3 linked regions of the Homo sapiens genome follow. The protein of the gene in region 3 interacts with the protein of the main gene of each other region in a pairwise test. Each region holds a gene or a part of one and is shown on either strand. Other genes may lie near its edges.

Region 1 (7,538 bases), on a different chromosome or scaffold from region 3:
CCAGCCTGGGTGACAGAGCAAGACTTTGTCTCAAAAAAAAAAAAAAAAAAAGAATAAACAAGGCCAGGCGTGGTGGCTCACACCTGTAATCCCAGCACTTTGGGAGACTGAGGTGGATGGATCACTTGAGGTCAGGAGTTCGAGACCAGCCTGGCCAACATGGCGAAACCCCATCTCTACTAAAAATACAAAAATTAGGCCGGGCATGGTGGCTAACACCTATAATCCCAGCACTTTGGGAGGCCGAGGCAAGCGGATCACTTGAGGTCAGGAGTTCGAGACCAGCCTGGCCAACATGGCGAAACCTGTCTCTACTAAAAATACAAAAATTAGCCAGGCGTGGTGGTACATGCCTGTAATCCCAGCTACTTGGGAGGCTGAGGCAGAAGAATCACTTGAACCCGGGAGGCAGAGGTTGCAGTGAGCCGAGATCATGCCACTGCACTCCAGCCTGGGCTACAAGAGCAAAACTCTATCTCAAAAAAAAAAAAAAAAATTAGCCAGGTGTGGTGGCACCATGCCTTATGCCTGTAGTCCCAGCTACTCCAGAGGCTGAGGCAGGAGAATCGCCTGAACCTGGGAGGCATAGGTTGCAGTGAGCTGAGATCATGCCACTGCACTCCAGCCTGGGTGACAGAGCGAGACTCTGTCTCGAAAAAAAAAAAAATTGTGGAAGGGACCGATTAAAAGTTTAGTGAGTAGAAAAATTTTGCATGCTAAAGTTTTGCTACTAAGTGTTGTCAAGGAGACAGAAGTGTAGCAGAAAGAATATGGAGTCAGACATATTTGTGTTCAAATTCCAGCCCTGTCAGTTATAGTTACGTGTACTTGGGCAAGTTACTTAAACTGCATTCCTCCTCAGTTTCCCATGTGTAAAACGAAGTTCTGTAAGGATTAACACAAATTAAAACCTAGTTCAGTGCCTGGTACACAGTAGGCACTAGATGAACAGTCCCTGTTGCTATTAGAATACCTGGAGTAGGGCCAGGCGTGGTGGCTCACGCCTCTAATCCCAGCCCTTTGGGAGGCCGAGGCAGGAGGATCACTTGCGGTCAGCAGTTCAAGACCAGCCTGGCCAACATGGCGAAACCCCGTCTCTATTAAAAATACAAAAATTAGCCAGGCATGGTGGCATGTGCCTGTAATCCCAGCTACTCGGGAGGATGAGGCAGGAGAATTGCTTGAACCCAGGAGGCGGAGGTTGCAGCGAGCCGAGATTGCACCATTGCACGGCAGCCTGGGCAATAGAACGAGACTCCATCTCTTAAAAAAAAAAAAAAAAAAAAAAGAATACCCTGAGTAAAGAGCGATTTCATTCAGAATCCCTAAGACTCTTGGGTAATGCATTGAATGTCTCCAAAACCCCACAGCAGACAGCCCTTATGCTGTACTAGTCATGCCCAAGCTCCCTCAGGTAACTAAGTTCTCCAGCACTGACAATTTCCTGCTTTTATCATATTCTGAAGGACCTAAATTCCATTCTCCCCCAAAGACATGATTTCACATAGTTCTTATATAGACAAGTGTTTCTCATGTTTTGCTATTCACTTTTCTTTCTTCAGTTTGGACTTTGCCAAACTTGGAATCTGGAAATCATAATTTCTCAATAAGATTTCAAAGCCCAAGTAGGAGACCACAATTTCTCATTCAATTCACTCCTTCAACAATGAAAGCACATACACTCTTTTAGTTCTTCAATGCTGTTTGAGCAGGATGCTGTCCACAGAGAATATTCTGGCCTTTTAGTCTGAGAAGAAAACATAAGGAAAACTAGAAAATGATTCTCAAACTGTTTTGCCTATAACCACTTCAAGTGGGCAAAAGATCCTGCAAACCAAGTACTCTATCTGCACATTCCATCCTTGCATTATGGGCTAAGCACTAGAGAGTAAAGTCCTCTATCATGCATGCTGGAAGAAGCCACTCCTGGGCAATTCTGAAATGTCATGTATTAAAGTAACTACAGACCAGGGTCAGAATCCAAAAGGGTAATCTAGGACAGAAAGGGCAAAAAGCCATTCATATACAAAGTACCTAAACGAGAGTCAATAAATACTGAAATAAACATTCTGGATACTTCAAATCTAAAGGATCCACATAGAATGAAAGCAGTGACTGACAAGGCACCAATCCCAGGGCCAGGCCAGGTTTCAAGGCGAGACAGCACGTAGTATCTGCGAAAACTTAAGCATAAAACATTTCTCTCCTTCAGATGCTGATCCGACACAAGTTAGGAAAGCGCTCGGTCTCAAGGAGACTCCCTTTCTTATTTCTGCTCCCACAAGCCTACTGTCTGCCTTTTCTGGAATCTACCTTCCCTTTAATTCAAGGCTTTGCTTTACTCCATTATCCCAGGGAGACCTCATTAGAAAGCAGCCGGCCTTCCTGCCCTCCCTCTTCAGACTTCTCACAACCTAGTTTAGTTATGGAGCTCAGCGATATATCGCCTTGGCTTTCCATCCCCCAGCCCTCTTCCATCCTCCCTCCCTTCCTTCAGTCGCTACAGCCGTGATTCCTATCTCCTTGAATTCCTCACTCTAATCTTTTTCCATCCACCCCACCCTATCCAGCCATGCTTCACTTCCTCATGGGTAGCTTTCCTGCATCCCCGTCCGATGTCTCCCTCAGGAGTTTTCTGCATCCTCCGGCCACAACTGAATCGGCAGACCTCGTTCCAAGCCTATTATACCCCTAACCCCCAAATGACCCCTAAGGCGTCTTCCCCGCCGTTAGTTGCCCCCGCGGTAGCCTCCCTCCCCCCTCCCGCTCGCGCCGCCCGGTCCTCCCTCAGCTGTCTCCCTCACCCCGTGACTCACCCGCATGCGAACCTCATAGGTGGTGAAGCGCGCGCGTCCCACGCCCACCGTCTGAGGATTAAAGATGTCGATCTCCAGGAAGTTACTTGGCGGCCCGTAAGCGTCGGTCAGGTCCTGCGGCTTCGAGTTAAGGCGCCGGGTATCAGCTACTGCCGTGTCCGACATCTTTCCGAAGGAGAGCCTGGGACCGGGGAAAGGGGGTGGGGGACAGAGGCCTGAGGCAGGAGCGCGCACGGCCCCTCCCGCTTGCAAAATAACTAGCCAACCCACAGGCGGCGGCGGCGCGCACGCGCGCCCACGCACGCACGCGCACGCCGCACGGGCCTGGGCCCCGGGCTCTGAATAGCGGCCGTGCTGACTGCTGCGCGCCCTGTAGAGTGGAGGCCATATTCAGGCTTCCGGGTGATGTTTGTGGCCACCCGGGAACCTGCATCCCCAATACGCAGTACCCAATACCCTGCCTAGCAGCACAGGCTGGCTCCGCCAATCGCGGCTCCTCAACCCAAGAAATTGTCTCGTACCGTGTATCAATCAACAGTGGGCACTGCCCCGTGAGCCAGGCTCCTACAGTGATAGGCCGAAGCCCAGTGACCTGAATAAGTCCTGGTTTTCCGCGAAAATAGAAGGGTGGTCTATGGAGGGTGGGGTTCCAACAATAGTACTGAGAACCTATAACGTAGCCGTCCCACCTGTGCCACTGATGGTTTCAGTTCACGCCACACACAATGGCGCACTCAGCACTACGTATGGCGCCAGGAAAGCAGCAAGCAACTAGGATGGGGTAAAGAAAGACATTTCTCTCTTACTTTTCAGGAAAATTGGGCATATCTTACTCCTTGTTGCCACACTCCAGGTGTACTCAATCTTACATTTATCAGCAAATTGAGGGTACTTATTTCATACCTTCTATTTCTACTCCGCAGAACTCCATACTTGGCACTGCTCTGAGGTTGCTTGCAACCCATAATGGAGATAGAATAAATGTTTACATGAGAATATCTATAGAAATATTAATATTTATATGACTAATTTACATATGCTCCACATTAAAGGGTAGACTGGGTGATGATTTCAGGTCATCCTTTCTCCACCTTTCCCCTGCCCTCCTCTACTCAAAAAATATTTCCCATATCACTGATGCCTGAAATTCTTTCAACAGAGTATGAGGCCCTACAATTTCACAATTGCTGTTTAATTCAATTTAACCAATATCCACTAAGCAAATACGTGCCAAGCACCATGCTAAACACTAAAATCCTGGAGTTAAATAAGAGTCCCTGCCCTCAAGGAGTTAACATTCTAGCAAGGGAGACAAGTAAACAAAACTAATATAATGCGACAAATACAAAATAAGTAAATGTTCAAAGCAGCACATAGGAAATGTATAACTGGAAAAATTAGGGGAGGTTCCCCTGGAGGAGGAAACATCTGAGTTTAACAGACATGAAAAGACATAAAGGACAAATAGGAGTGGAAATAGGGAAAGGTAATTTCTGGAATAAGAAACAGCATATGCAGGCCGGGCGCGGTGGCTCACACCTGTAATCCCAGCACTTTGGGAGGCCGAGGCAGGCAGATCACTTGAGGTCAAGAGTTCGAGATCAGCCTGGCCAACATGGTGAAACCCTGTCTCTATTAAAAATACAAAAATTAGCTGGGCATGGTGGCACACGCCTGTAATCCCAGCTACTCAGGAGGCTGAGGCAGGAGAATCGCTTGAACCCGGGAGGCAGAGGTTGCAGTGAGCTGAGATCATGCCACTGCACTCCATCCTGGGCAACAGAGCAAGACTCCATCAAAAAAAGAAAGAAAGAAAAGGAAAAGAAAAGAGAGAGAGAGAGAGAGCGAAAGAAAGAAAGAATACACAAAGTCCTTGCGATAAGAAACAGTGGAGCATTTTTAGGCATTTATCGCCAATTCAGACTGTGTGATGGAAGTGTTTAGAAAGGTAGACTGGCTAGGGATGGGCAGACAAAGGATGATCCGCTTATATTAAGTAAAGGATCTCTGACTTCATGATAGGTGATACAAAGCTTTCTGGTAGGTGATAGGGAGTCCCTGAAGGATCCTAAGCAGGAAAAATACATGATCAGATTTATGTTTTAGAAGAATTGTTTTGTAGACAACATGGAAGGTATATTTAAGTTGAATTATGAAGGTATTGACAATAAGACTCCGAATCAAGTGGTGATGGTGACAATGGAGAGGAGGGAAGAGATAGGAAAGAGATTGAAGAAATAAAATAGATACGACTTGTACGTGATTAGATATGGTGGTAGTATAGTGTAGGGCTTAAATGTGTGACCCATGAACTTAGGCTGCCTGGGTTTAAATCCTTGCTTTCTAGCTGTATAACCATGAGCAAATTATACAAACAGTTTTCCTCATCTGTAAAAAATGAGTTCAGTTTAGATAAATATGGGGTGTCTGTAGAACATCCAGGTGGAGATGTCCAGCGAGTAGCTGGAAATACTGGCCTGGAGCTCGAGGGCGAGGTCAGGGTTAGAGAGATAGAGATATGAGAGTCATCAGCATACCATGTAGAAAGAAAAACATGAAGAGGCAAGGACAGAAGATTTGAAAGTTGGTGAGGGCATGCAGTTTTGGTAGGAATGTGAATCGGTACAATCTTTCTGGGAAATAGATTGGCAGTATGTATTTTTTTTTTAAACTTTGACTTGAAGAAACTTGTAATACTGGTTGTCTCTGGAGAGCAGAACTGGAGAAAAGAAGTCACAGACGGCAGGGAGGGTTGTTTTTCATTAACTGTGTTTAAGTATAATGCCTTTGTATTTTTTATTTTTAATGTTATTTACCAAAATCTTTAACTCAAAAGTTTTACTTCCAATAATTTATCCTCAGAAAATAATCAGATAATCACATAAAGATACCAGTGTAAGGTTCTTGTTTTTAAGAGCAAATAATTGTTCATTTTCTGCAATATTTGTGTAGTCTTTTTTTCTAATTTGTGAATTTGCTTATATAACAAGTATTATAAAGGGGTAGTGGATTTTATATTTTACAAGGCTTTTTATCTTAGTCACTTCCATCATAAATTTCACTATCTTGTGTAAATGGCCTAATTTACAGTTCCCCTATCTATCCATTTAAAATAATTTCTTATGCTTGTTGATACAGAATGATGTCCATGAAAAAGTGAAAAAAGCTGGCAAAAAATATTGTAGTATGATATCACTTGTATTAATGTATATTTTATATATAATAATTAATATAAATAATTATAATTATAAATAATATAATGTAATATATAAATAATATAAACATATAATTATATATAATTAAATATAAATAATTATATATTTATATAATTATTATAGTTTATATTATATATAATTATTATATTTATATATTAATTTATATATATATTTATATTTATATATATTATATATAAATATATAATATTTATATATTATATATATAAATATATAATATTTATATATATTATATATAAATATATAATATTTATATATTTATATTTATATATCTATATCATTATATATAATTATTTATATATAAATATATTTATATATAAATATATAATATATAGATATATAAATATATATATAAATATATATTTATATATATAAATAATTATTTATATATAATTTTTAAAGTCTGGAAAGACATGCACCAAAATGTAGCAGCGGTTACCTCTGTGTGGTGGGGTTTCAGTTGGATTTTATATTTTTATAATTTTCTAAAGGATCTGATTTTTTAACAATAAACTTACATTTATTTTTTAACCAGAAAATGTAAAACTATTTCCATTTGGGAAAACCATTAAAGGGCAGGCACAGAAAAGAACAGCTTGTGGGCCGGGCACGGTGGCTCACGCCTGTAATCCCAGTACTTTGGGAGGCCAAGGCGGGCTGATTGCCTGAGTGCAGGAGTTTGCGACCAGCCTGGGCAACACGGTGAAAACCTGTCTCTACTAAAATACGAAAAATTAGACGGGCGAGGTGGCATGTGCCTGTAGTCCCAGCTACTTGGGAGGCCGAGGCAGGAGAATTGCTTGAACCCGGGAGGCGGAGGTTGCAGTGATCCGAGATCGAGCCACTGCACTCCAGCCAGGGCAACAGAGCAAGACTCCATCTTGGGGAAAAAAAAAAAAAAAAGCTCGTGAAGGAGATCAGGAAGGAGTGGTCAGAGAGGTAGGAAGAGAGCCAGAAGACAATAATGATCTGAAGACAACGAATAAAAATGTTTCTCAAAGGAGCAAATAGGTGGTTAATAGTGTTTAATATAGTAGAAAGGTCAAATAAGATAAGCCCTGAGAAATGTCCACTAGATTAAATAATTACTTAAATGAGAACAGTTTCAGTAGAGTCCTGGGAGTAGAATCCAGATCATAGTGAATTGAGAATTGAATCAGAGGTAAAGAAGTGGAAACATTTAGTAGAGAATCTTTTGAGAAACTTGCCTAAGAAAGAAATGTTGTAGCTAGAGAGCCATGCATAGTCAAAGAAGGATTTGTTTTTTAGGATAGGAGAGATTTAAATATGTTTAGCAGCTAGAGGGACCAATTCCATAGAAAGTTAAATATATAGGTGAGTGACAAGATAAGGCTTAAAATCAAATGGCCCTAGGAGAATTGTGCAAGTTAAATTCACAATGAGGTGTAAATAAATGATAAATGATCTTTGAGGGAAAATTTTGATAGGGTGAAAAGAAGAGGACAGTAGAGGGTACTGGGCTAATTAA
Region 2 (7,032 bases), on a different chromosome or scaffold from region 3:
GCTAGAGTGCAGTGGCGCGATCTCGGCTCACTGCAATCTCCGCCTCCCTGGTTCACGCCAATCTCCTGCCTCAGCCTCCCGAGTAGCTGGGACTACAGGCGCCTGCCATCATGCCCGGCTAATTTTTGTATTTTTAGTAGAGACGGGGTTTCACCGTGTTAGCCAGGATGGTCTCCATCTCCTGACCTCGTGATCCGGCCACCTTGACTTCCCAAAGTTCTGGGATTACAGGCCTGAGCCACCACGCTCGGCCTAATTTTTGTATTTTTTAGTAGAGACGGGGTTTCACCATGTTGGCAAGGTGGTCGCGATCTCTTGACCTCGTGATCTGCCTGCCTCGGCCTCCCACAGTGCTGGGATTACAGGCGTGAGCCTCTGTGCCCGGCTTATGCAGCATTTTTCCTTCTAGAGGATTTCAGAGAAAAGTGAAATCTTGATTACACCCAGCCTGAGTCATTCATTCACATGATCACAGCGCTGGCCCCTCATACATATGCCTTTGAGTTCATGGCTGTGGATTCAGCTGGTTGTTACCTTCCTTCTGCTCACCTCTCAGGGCTCACCCGAGACAGCACTGCCTTCAGGAAGCCTTCCCTCATATCCTAGACTAGCGAGGGCAGACTTTGCTGCTGGCCAGGCCTCCCTGCAGTCATCAGATGTTATTGTAATTACTTATTCTGGAGCTGCTCCTTGCAGGACTGAATGCTCCATGAGGGAATGTCCTCTGTCTTGGTCAGAGACTCCTTCTCACCTCTAGCTCCACATCTGGCATGTAATAAGCACTTGTTAACTCTTCAGTGAATAAATGTAGGAGTCTTGTGTCCTCCACTGTCTTCCTTGGCCCCTGATGTGTGGTTCTCATCCCAGGCCTGCAGAATGATCACAAGGCAGTGATGAAGCAGGTGGAGGAGGCCCTGCACCAGCTGCACGCTCGCGACAAGGAGAAGCAGGCCCGGGACATGGCTGAGGCCCACAAAGAGGCCATGAGCCGCAAACTGGGTCAGAGTGAGAGCCAGGGCCCTCCACGGGCCTTCGCCAAAGTGAACAGCATCAGCCCCGGCTCCCCAGCCAGCATCGCGGTAATCCAGGGGTTGGCCACTCAAGTCCATGCCCAGGGGACACGGTGGGTCAGGTAGCCTTCGGGGATGTGGAAAGACAGACTAGTTCTCTCCGTGCTGCGGTGCTGAGTTCAGTTACTCATTTAACAAACACTGACTGAGGCCTGTCGTGTATCCAGCCCTGTGCTGGGGGCAGAGTTTTAGAGAGGGGTCAGCCCCGGCTGCCCACTACATTGGTGGGGGAGTGACCTCTTCCCAGTGACAGAAGATGATAAATGTCCCAAGAGAGGGAGAGGATCTCTTCTTGGGGCTCATTTTAGCTGGGCACTGAATGATGAAAATGAGAATGGCATCTTGCCAAATGAGTTATGCATCTTATGTGGTGTCTTAAAAAAAACATTAGGCTGGGCACAGTGGCTCATGCGTGTAATCCCAGCACTTGAGAAGGCTGAGGCGACTTGGAAAGCTGAGATGGGAGGATCACTTGGGCTCAGGAAGTCGAAGTTGCAGTGAGCTGTGACTGTGCCACTGCACTCCAGCCTGGGTGACAGAGTGAGACCTTGTCTTAAAAAAAATTTTTTTTTGACCGGGAGCATTGGCTCACGCCTGTAATCCCAGCATGTTGGGAGGCCGAGGCCAGTGGATCACTTGAGGTCAGGAGTTCGAGACCAACCTGGCCAACATGGCGAAACCCCGTCTCTACTAAAAATACGAAAATCATGCCACTGCACTCCAGCCTGGGCAACAGAGTGAGACTCCGTCTCAAAAAAAAAAAAAAAATTTACCCATTTAAAGTCCGTATACAGTTTAGTGTCTTTTGGTGTATTCACAGAGCCATGCATTACCACAATCAATTTTCTTTCTATTTAAAAAATTTGCAGCCAGGTGCAGTGGCTCACGCCTGTAATCCCAGCACTTTGGGAGGCTTAGGTGGGCGATCACCTTATGTCAGGAGTTCAAGACCAGCCTGGCCAACATGGCGAAACCCCATCTCTACTAAAAATACAAACATTAGCCGGGTGTGGTGACATGTGCCTGTAATCCCAGCTACTCGGGAGGCTGAGGCAGGAGAATCGCCTGAACCCAGGAGGTGGAGGTTGCAGTGAGCGGAGATCGTGCCACTACACTCCAGAGCCTGGGCGACAGAGTGAGACTCTGTCTAAAAAAAAAAAAAAAAAAAAAAGGAGATGGGGTTTCGCTCTGTTGCGTAGGTTGGTCTCCATCTCCTGGGCTCAAGTGATTCTACCACCTTGGCCTCCCAAAATGCTGGGATTATAGGCATGAGCCACCATGCCCAGCCATAATCAATTTCAGAACATTGTCATTGTCTTGTAAAGAAACTCTGTAGTGATTTGCCATCACTTCCCAATCCCCCAGCTCCCCGCACCCAGTTATCTACTTTCTGTCTCTATGTATTTGTCTATTCTGGATATTTCCTATAAGTTGAATCATATAATATGTGACCTTTTATGACTGGCTTCTTTCACTTAGCAAATTTTCAAGTCATCTGTATTGAGCATGGATCAGTGCTTCATTTGTTTACAGACAGGGTCTCACTCTCTCACCCAGACTTCAGTGCCATGGTGCCATCATAGCTCACTGCAACCTCAAACTCGCAGAGTCAAGTGATCCTCCTGTCTCAGCCTCCCAAGCAGCTAGGACTGTAGGCACATGTAACCATGCCTGGTTAATTTTTTATTTCCTTTTTTTTTTAGAGATGGGTTCTCACTATGTTGCCCAGGCTGGTCTTGAACTCCTGGCCTCAAGCGATCCTTCTTCCTCGGCCTCCCAAAGTGCTAGAATTACAGGCATGAGCTGTCATGCCTGGCCCTTCATTCCTTCTTTTTTTTTTTTTTTTTTTTTTTTTTTGAGACGGAGTCTCGCTCTGTCGCCCAGGCTGGAGTGCAGTGGCACGATCTCGGCTCACTGCAAGCTCCGCCTCCCAGGTTCACGCCATTCTCCTGCCTCATCCTCCCGAGTAGCTGGGACTACAGGCGCCTGCCATCACGTCCAGCTAATTTTTATTTTTTGTATTTTTAGTAGAGACAGGGTTTCACTTTGTTAGCCAGGGTGGTCTCGATCTCCTGACCTCGTGATCCGCCCGCCTCAGCCTCCCAAAGTGCTGGGATTACAGGCGTGAGCCACTGTGCCTGGCCCTTCATTCCTTTTTATGGCCAAATAATATTCCACTGCCTGGATATATCATATTTTATTTATCCATTTGTCAGTTAATGGACATTTGAATTGTTACCACTTTTTGGCTATTACGAAGCATGTTGCTGCGAACATTCTTGTACAGTTTTTTTGTGGAGATGTAGTTAAATTTAATTCCACAGCCACTTCTGGGATAGGTCCTAATCTTTACTCATTTCATCCTCGAGGAAAAGCCTTGCAGACCTGAAGTAACTTATGTCAGGACACATAGTTCCTGCCAGGTGGAATGGGGTCCTAAACCCTGGTCAGGACACATAGTTCCTGCCAGGTGGAATGGGGTCCTAAACCCTGGTCAGGACACATAGTTCCTGCCAGGTGGAATGGGGTCCTAAACCCTGGTCCTACCAGTCTTCTTTAATGGTCACAAGTCTGTAAGTTACACAGAAGCTCCCTATCATTCACTACCCCATCTACTGCATCTAACCCAGTGCCAGTTGGCCCACAACAAATACTTGTTACAGGGGTGAATGAGTGGTGGTCTGTCTTCTTAGGACCTAGAACAAGAGCGTCACTCTAGTCTTGGATGCGCCCTGTGCCTGTGGCTGCTTGTCTGGGGGCTTCTAGGGCAAGTGTCTTGTCTAAATGTTGATCACTGAATAAAATGGGCCCAGCCTGGCTTGCCTTCTCTTACCCTTGAACCTGGGTTAGGACCGCAGAGAGCAGCATTTGGCCTTTCCCATGCTCCTCAAGGCCTTCACAGTGTCTGGTAACTGCCAGCTCTCAGACATTGGGCAGACCTGGTCATCTTTACTAGAGCTGCCCTCAAAGGAACCCCAGGAGGAGGTGGCCCCGTTACCCACTGCCCCTTCCTGCATGAGGTGTCTACATCCCTGACCTCTTTGTTCTGAGCCTACCCTGTAGAAAACAAGCTCGTGACCTTGGCATTAAATTGGGTATTGAAGGTTAGAGACCACCAGGAGCACACTGAACCTCTAGCCTGATTTTCCATTTTTCCTTCCCTCTCCAGGGTCTGCAAGTGGATGATGAGATTGTGGAGTTCGGCTCTGTGAACACCCAGAACTTCCAGTCACTGCATAACATTGGCAGTGTGGTGCAGCACAGTGAGGGGGTGAGTGGGGCTACCTGGTGTCTCGGTCTGTTTGGGTTTTTCTAACAGTATGCCATAGACTGCGTGGCTTACAAACAACAGAAGTTCATTTTTCACAGCTCTGGAGGCAGGGAAGTCCAAGATCCAGGCACCAGCCAATTTGGTGTCTGGGGAGGGCTTGCTTCCTAACTCCTAGGTGGTGCCTTCTTGCTGTGTCCTCACATGGCAGAAAGGGGAGGAACCCTGGGAGCTCTTGTATAAGGGCACTAATCCCAGTGGGGGCGCCACCCCTCATGACCTAATCACCTTGCAGAGGCCCCACCCCTAATACCATCACATTGGTGGTTAGGATTTCAACATATGAATTTCAGGGGGCCACAGACATTCAGGTCATAGCACTCGGCCTCTGGTCTATAGCCCTGGAGTTACTGGAAGTGTTGCTGAGGCCCTGGACTGCTGCCTTCATGGTGTTGCTCAGCACAGCCCCATTCAAGGACTTGGCACCTGCTATTCCTTCTGTTTAGAATGCTCTTCCTCTTCATCCTCCTTCTGTTTTACACTGGTGACATGCTCGCAGGGGGCCTTTCCTGGCTACCCTAACCCAAATTCCCCTCTCCTCTGCCCTGTCTCTGTTTTCATTTAACAAGGTTTCTTAGAGATCTTTTCTTTTTTTTTTTTTTTTTTTTAAGACAGGGTCATGCTGTGTCACCCAGGCTAGAGTGTGGTGGTGCTATCATAACTACCTCACGGCTAATTTTTTTATATTTTGTGGAGGCGGGGTCTTGCTATGTTGTCCAGGCTGGAATTTTTGTTGTTGTTTTGTAGCAAAGATCCACACTTTTCAGGAGTGATACTGTGGCAAAGCCCAGGAAAATTATTAACTAAAGTTTTTGGTTCCCAAATGAAGTCTCCAGTTAACCCAACAGTTGTGGATTTTTTGACTCCTGCTTAGCTGCACGGTTCATCTACTTGTAACCCATCAGTGCAGGCCAGGCCAGGTCAGGTCAGGAGATGGCTGGCAGTTGCCTATGCCCCTGCTAGTGGTCAGGCCATCGTTTCTGCACTGATACTGTCATCAAATCTGTAACTTGTATGGACGTTTAAAATGATGATTTTGTGAAATTTATCAGTTTTTTTGCTTATGGCTCTTGCATTTTGTGTCCATTTAAAGAAATTCTTTTTTTTTTTTTTAATTAAGAAATTCTTGGCTGGGCGTGGTGGCTCACTCCTGTAATCCCAGCACTTTAGGAGGGCGAGGTGGGTGGATCACGAAGTCAGGAGTTGGAGACCATCCTGGCTAACACGGTGAAACCCCGTCTCTACTAAAAATACAAAAAATTAGCCGGGTGTGGTGGCACACACTTGTAGTCCCAGTTACTTGGGAGACTGAGGAAGGAGAATCGCTTGAACCCAGGAGGCAGAGCTTGCAGTGAGCCGAGATCGCGCCATTGCACTCCAGCCTAGGCGACAGAGCAAGACTCTGTCTCAAAAAAAGAAATTCTTTTAATTCTTTTATTGTTTTATTTCTGTTTTTCCTTTAGTCCATCTGAAATTTATTATTATTATTATTATTATTATTATTATTATTTGAGATGGAGTCTCGCTCTGTCACCCAGGCTGGAGTGCAGTGGTGCGATCTTGGCTCACTGCAACCTCCGCCTCCCAGGTTCAAGTGATTCTCCTGCCTCAGCCTCCTGAGTAGCTGGGATTACAGGCGCCCACCACCATGCCTGGCTAATTTTTGTATTTTTAGTAGAGATGGGGTTTCGCTATGTTGGCCAGGCTGGTCTCAAACTGGCCTCCCAAAGTGCTGGGACTACAGATGTGAGCCACTGCGCCTGGTCTATTTTTATTATTTTTACAACAGTTTTATTGAGATTTAATGCACATACTACACAGTTCACCCATTTAAAGTGGTTTTTAGTGTAGTCACAGAATTATGCAGCCATCACAATTGTACATTTTCATCACTTCTCCTCCTGAGGCAGCCACTTTCCAGCCACATGTCCTTCAGAAAGACTGCTCATATACCAGCACACAGAGCTGCCAGTTGATTTTATTTTATTAAGGTGTAATTTACCTGCACCAGATCCACCTTTTTCAGTGTACAGTCCCATGAGTTTTCTTCTTTTTCTTTTCTTTTTTTTTTTTTAGATGGAGTCTTGCTCTGTCGCCCAGGCTGGAGTGCAGTGGTGCAGTCTCGGGGGGGCTACTGCAAGCTCTGCCTCCCAGGTTCACGCCATTCTCCTGCCTCAGCCTCCCGAGTAGCTGGGACTACAGGCATGTGCCACCATGCCCAGCTAATTTTTTTGTATTTTTAGTAGAGATGGGGTTTCACTGTGTTAGCCAGGATGGTCTCGATCTCCTGACCTCGTGATCCACCTGCCTTGGCCTCCCAAAGTGCTGGGATTACAGGTGTGAGCCACCACACCCAGCCGAGTTTTCTTTTTTTTTTCTTTAAGATGGAGTTTTGCTCTTTTGCCCAGTCTGGAGTGCAGTGGCACGATCTCGGCTCACTGCAACCTCTGCCTCCCAGGTTCAAGCGATTCTCCAGCCTCAGTCTCCCAAGTAGCTGGGATTATAGGTGCCCACCACCACGCCCAGCTAATTTTTTTTTGTATTTTTAGTAGAGACAGGGTTTCAGCATGTTGGCCAGGCTGGTCTCAAACTCCTAACCTCAGGTGATCCACCCACCTCAGCCTCCCAAAGTTC
Region 3 (4,539 bases):
TAATTGTTTTCTGGGCTAAATTCTTCCTGACTGTACTAAGAAGCAATCCCTACTTAGCTGCATAAATGGACTATATGCTATTAATTATCAAGGCAACCCAAAGCAAAGTTCTAAAAAATGTACCCTCCCATCCCAAATAGTTCATTTTATTGCACAAATGCTACTTGCGTTACAGCTAACAATGAGGCCTCAGAAATAGAGATGATGTACACTATAAAATGGCCAAAGATGCCTTATATTAGTCTAACATTTTGCTTGTGAAAAAGCATATTGTAGGCAAGAATAGTCCTGTGTACTTTATGCAGGCAAAATTCTGTATCATTTTCTTCTATAGTCAGTTTAAAGGATATGTAAGGCTTTCTTTAGCTTTATACAAATATAAATGTTAAAAATATCTATAAGGTACACTATAATTCTCAGAAGCTCTTCGGTTTACTAAGTACAGTGGTTACTTAGTCAAAATATGCTGAGTGAATCTGACCTAAGAATAAATTTACTTTAAAAATGATACAAAATAATGACTTAGTGTGGTAATAAAATGTTGTCAATTTTATTAAAAGCTGATTCCATTTCTTCACACAGTTAAGTACGTTTCTTTCTTGTTTTGTTAAAGCCCATTTCATAAGAGTGAGTTGGCTCTGTGAGACCATCACTGATAAAGACACATACAGTTAGCACCACACATTTATAAATGCAGATAGCCACAATGACCTTTCCAATATGTACAAGCTCCATTTACACATCCACACATGTATTTACAGCTAATAAATAAAATGTAAAGCCAGAACATCCTTGATATATATAACAAAGTTTTTCGGAGCCAGAGTTCCCAGTGCTATGTGCTGCTTTAGTGAATCTTTTAAGTTAATGCACCCTGGGTCACAACCCAAATCCAGAAATTTAATGAATTAATAAAGGGGATGCCAACAACAAATCATACATCATTTTATTTTTAGAGAGAATTCATTCCAAGCCTGATGATGTTAATCACAACATTGGTCCTACTATTTATAGGCACGATCATCTCTCTCAGAGAAAGGGTCGAAGTTCTGGCACATCAGGAACAATTTCTACTCCGACATGTTCCAATACATCCCTTGATCGACTGTTTTCCCTTCCGAATTATGCTGAAGGACAACACACATGCAGAGCTTTCTAGTATGTGTTCAGATATCACATACTTTCACAGTCGGGTTCCCAGCTATAGCCTCTGAGATATTTGACATCTTTATCATTTCATATTTATACGTAGAAGAGCATTCTGAAAAATAGGAGATCTAGTTTATAAATAGTTGTTCACTCACTCTTGATTAGTTGTTAAAAACAACAAATAGCAACCCTCATGGTACTCCATCTGGCTCATTGCACGCGATGGTTTACAAGCACTGCTTAGGAATCCACCCCAGGAACCTCTCCACCCTTTTACTTAGTAAAAACGGTCCTTGTCTAAAATCTGTAGAAGCTCACACAATGCAAAATTTGAACTCAAACCTATCTTTTCATGTCAAAGCCAGGAACAAAAGAGACGCACTGGAAGTACAACTGAAGCATGACCAAGGTAAGCCTAAAACTGAAGAGTAACTGTCAGATATTGAATGATTTTAAATTGATGAAAATCATTTGGAGAATCTAATAATAAAATTACGGTTTCTTTTTTTTTTTCTGCACCATTCAAATTATGTGTCAGCTGAGGATTACAGGCTCATTTTCAACACCTACCCAGAGAACATTATTATAATATAATCTTGAGACAAAAAAGAAGGGGGAGAGAGGGATTAAGCAATAAACGATAAAGCCTATTAAGAATTAATTGATCTAGATTTTATATCTCCTTGAATTTGTAACTTTGTCATGATGCAGGCCAATGGTAGGGACTGTTTAAAACCTCTGTGTTTATCAGACCCTTTCTTCGTCCCTCTCCAAGTTACATGTTCCTGGTTGACGTCTGGACCACATTCCAATAGCAAGAGGGAATCATTCTAAAACATCATTCATACTGCTGTGTAGATGAGTCTGATTCGTGCCGCGGAAAAGCATTTTCTGTATTCTTGGAGACTTAGAGTAAAGTTTGAGAAGGCCTCAGTCCGAAAGATCCAGAATTCCAATTAAAATAGGAGGTTCTAACCAATTATAGGCTATGGCCCAATACGCCACATGAAGGAGCCTTATTTTACTCTGCGCTCAAACAATTATTTCTTTCTCAAAGGACAAAACAGCACTTTTCATGATCCACTGTCTTTTAACGTTGGAGGATGTGCTATTTGGCCACTATACCCCATAAATTGAATTAGCCACTTTTTAGTGCTTGAGACTGTCTCCTAAAATAACTAACAAGGGTAGGGCTGGGATTAATATTCAGGAAAATCCACTTTTGAAACACCCCAAACACTGGGTATGTTTTGTAAAAGTTACTTCCTCCACTTCATTCTTCACAGAATTCACATGCCGTTCTTTGTTCTGTAGATTCGCCCAGTTTCTGAGAAAAAGCACAGGAAAAAGGGCAATTTATTATCTTCTGAGTGTTTTACAATTCCCGCCTGTCCCCCACTGGTTTTAGGATGGAAAAAGCCTTCAAATGGAATTTCAGAACAAAGGTTGTGAGAATAAACCCAGGGGAGATGTGTATAATGGATCAGAGAATGGCAGGTTTGTAGGAATGGAAGACACTGGAGCAACTATTTAGCCCCGTCCCAATAAGGTGCATCATTTTTGGAGGACTGGGCCAAATGACTTCTAAATTTAGAGGATTTCTTATTCTAAAATGTATCAAACGAAAGGCCTGTTCCATTTCATTTCTTGTGATATGAGGTTTCTGAGGAGTTAGCAGAAGGTGTGAGAAAGAGAATCTTTGATTTGATTGATTTTAATCACAGAAGAAAGAAACTGTAGAAGATTATTAGTCTAATTTATAATTACCTCCTAGATAAAGTTCAGGTACGTTTTTAAAAATGCATCTGGCTGGGTGCTGTGGCTCATGCCTGTAATCCCAGCACATTGGGAGGCTGAGACAGGCACATCACCTGAGGTTAGGAGTTCAATGACCAGCCTGGCCAATATGGTGAAACTCCGTCTCTACTAAAAACAGAAAAATTAGCTGGGCATGGTAACGGGCACCTATAATCCCAGCTACTTGTCAGGCTGAGGCACAAGAATCACTTGAACCCGGGAGGCAGAGTTGCATTGAGCCGAGATCACGCCACCACATTCTAGCCTGGGCAACAGAACGAGACTGTCTCAAAAATAAATAAAAGTAAAAAATAAAAATAAAACGCATCTGAACATTCTCTGTCTAAATAACTGTTCTGTCAGTAATCCTATAATCAGACAAGGAATGCTTCATTAGGCTTTCTCAGATAAAGTCTTGTAACATATAAAAAATACGACTGGACGTGCTTTACAAGCAGCTAGAGTTATTTACTAATTTAATGAGGTTTTATTTTCACATTCACATGTAGATTTAAAGTTGTAGATGCTCTGGCAGAATATGCATGCTATTTATGTGTAATACAAATGCATGTATAAAACTGCATCTAGGGCCGGGTGTGGTGACTCACACCTATAATCCCAGCACTTTGGGAGGCCGAGGCAGGTGGATAACCTGAGGTTAGGAGTTCAAGACCAGCCTGACCAACATGGTGAAACCCTTTCTCTACTAAAAATACGAAATTAGCCAGGTGTGGTGGCGGACACGTGTAATCCCAGCTACTTGGGAGGCTGAGGCAGGAGAATTGCTTGAACCCAGGAGGTGGAGGTTGCAGTGAGCTGAGATCGAGCCACTACACTCCAGCCTGGGCAGCAAGAGCAAAACTCCATCTCAAGAAAAAAAAAACCAAAACAAACAAAAAAAACTTCATCTAAAAGTCTCTTTCTAAGAACTGAAGAAAGTATGATATTGCCTCAGATTTGTGATGAGGAAAAACAACGTAATAACCTCTTAGAAGAAAAGTCTCCAGTTAGATAAGAATTGCGTTATTTTGCCTGGCTCAATACCACTAACTATTCTCCATTTTGAGTTTATCCTGAATGCTCTTACATTAATGCTTTTGATCCAGATGTTCTCATCTAGTCATTCAGAGTATATACACCATAATTCTATTTTTGTAAAGGACGAAAAACATATAAATATTATGTATATATAAAGTCCGAAAGAATATAAATAAAAACGTTAATTGGGGTTGTCTCTGAGTGATATGGTCACAGTGATTTTATTTTATTTTTGCTTATTTTTCCTAATCTATTTATAGTAAACATGTATAAAATCTATTATAAAGTAGAATTTAAAAACATTAAAGATGTTACACATAGGGTCTTTAATATACTTTTCCTAATAGGCATGTTTTTTTTTTTTTTGAGATGGAGTCTTTCTCTGTTGCCCAGGCTGGAATATAATGGCGCGATCTCATCTCACTGCAACCTCTGCCTCCCCGGTTCAAGCAATTCTCCCGCCTCAGCCTGCCGAGTAGCTGGGATTACAGGCATGTGCCGCCACACCCAGCTAATTTTTATATTTTTAGTAGAGAGGTGGTTTCGCCACGTTGG

The links.
Region 1: the proteins of LPL (region 3) and SNX12 interact in binary tests that used the Homo sapiens proteins (3 or more experiments, as listed by UniProt).
Region 2: the proteins of LPL (region 3) and PSMD9 interact in binary tests that used the Homo sapiens proteins (3 or more experiments, as listed by UniProt).

The regions. Positions count from the first base shown.
Region 1 is NC_000023.11:71,065,326-71,072,863, forward strand, and holds the start of SNX12 (sorting nexin-12), read right to left. Parts: upstream 3,010-7,538; 5' UTR 2,982-3,009; coding exon 2,817-2,981; intron 1,743-2,816; exon of another isoform or gene 1,681-1,742; intron 1-1,680. UniProt on the Homo sapiens protein: May be involved in several stages of intracellular trafficking.
Region 2 is NC_000012.12:121,898,767-121,905,798, forward strand, and holds part of PSMD9 (26S proteasome non-ATPase regulatory subunit 9), read left to right. Parts: intron 1-867; coding exon 868-1,079; intron 1,080-4,239; coding exon 4,240-4,341; intron 4,342-7,032. UniProt on the Homo sapiens protein: Acts as a chaperone during the assembly of the 26S proteasome, specifically of the base subcomplex of the PA700/19S regulatory complex (RC).
Region 3 is NC_000008.11:19,963,247-19,967,785, reverse strand, and holds the end of LPL (lipoprotein lipase precursor), read right to left. Parts: intron 2,477-4,539; coding exon 2,476-2,476; 3' UTR 527-2,475; downstream 1-526. UniProt on the Homo sapiens protein: Key enzyme in triglyceride metabolism.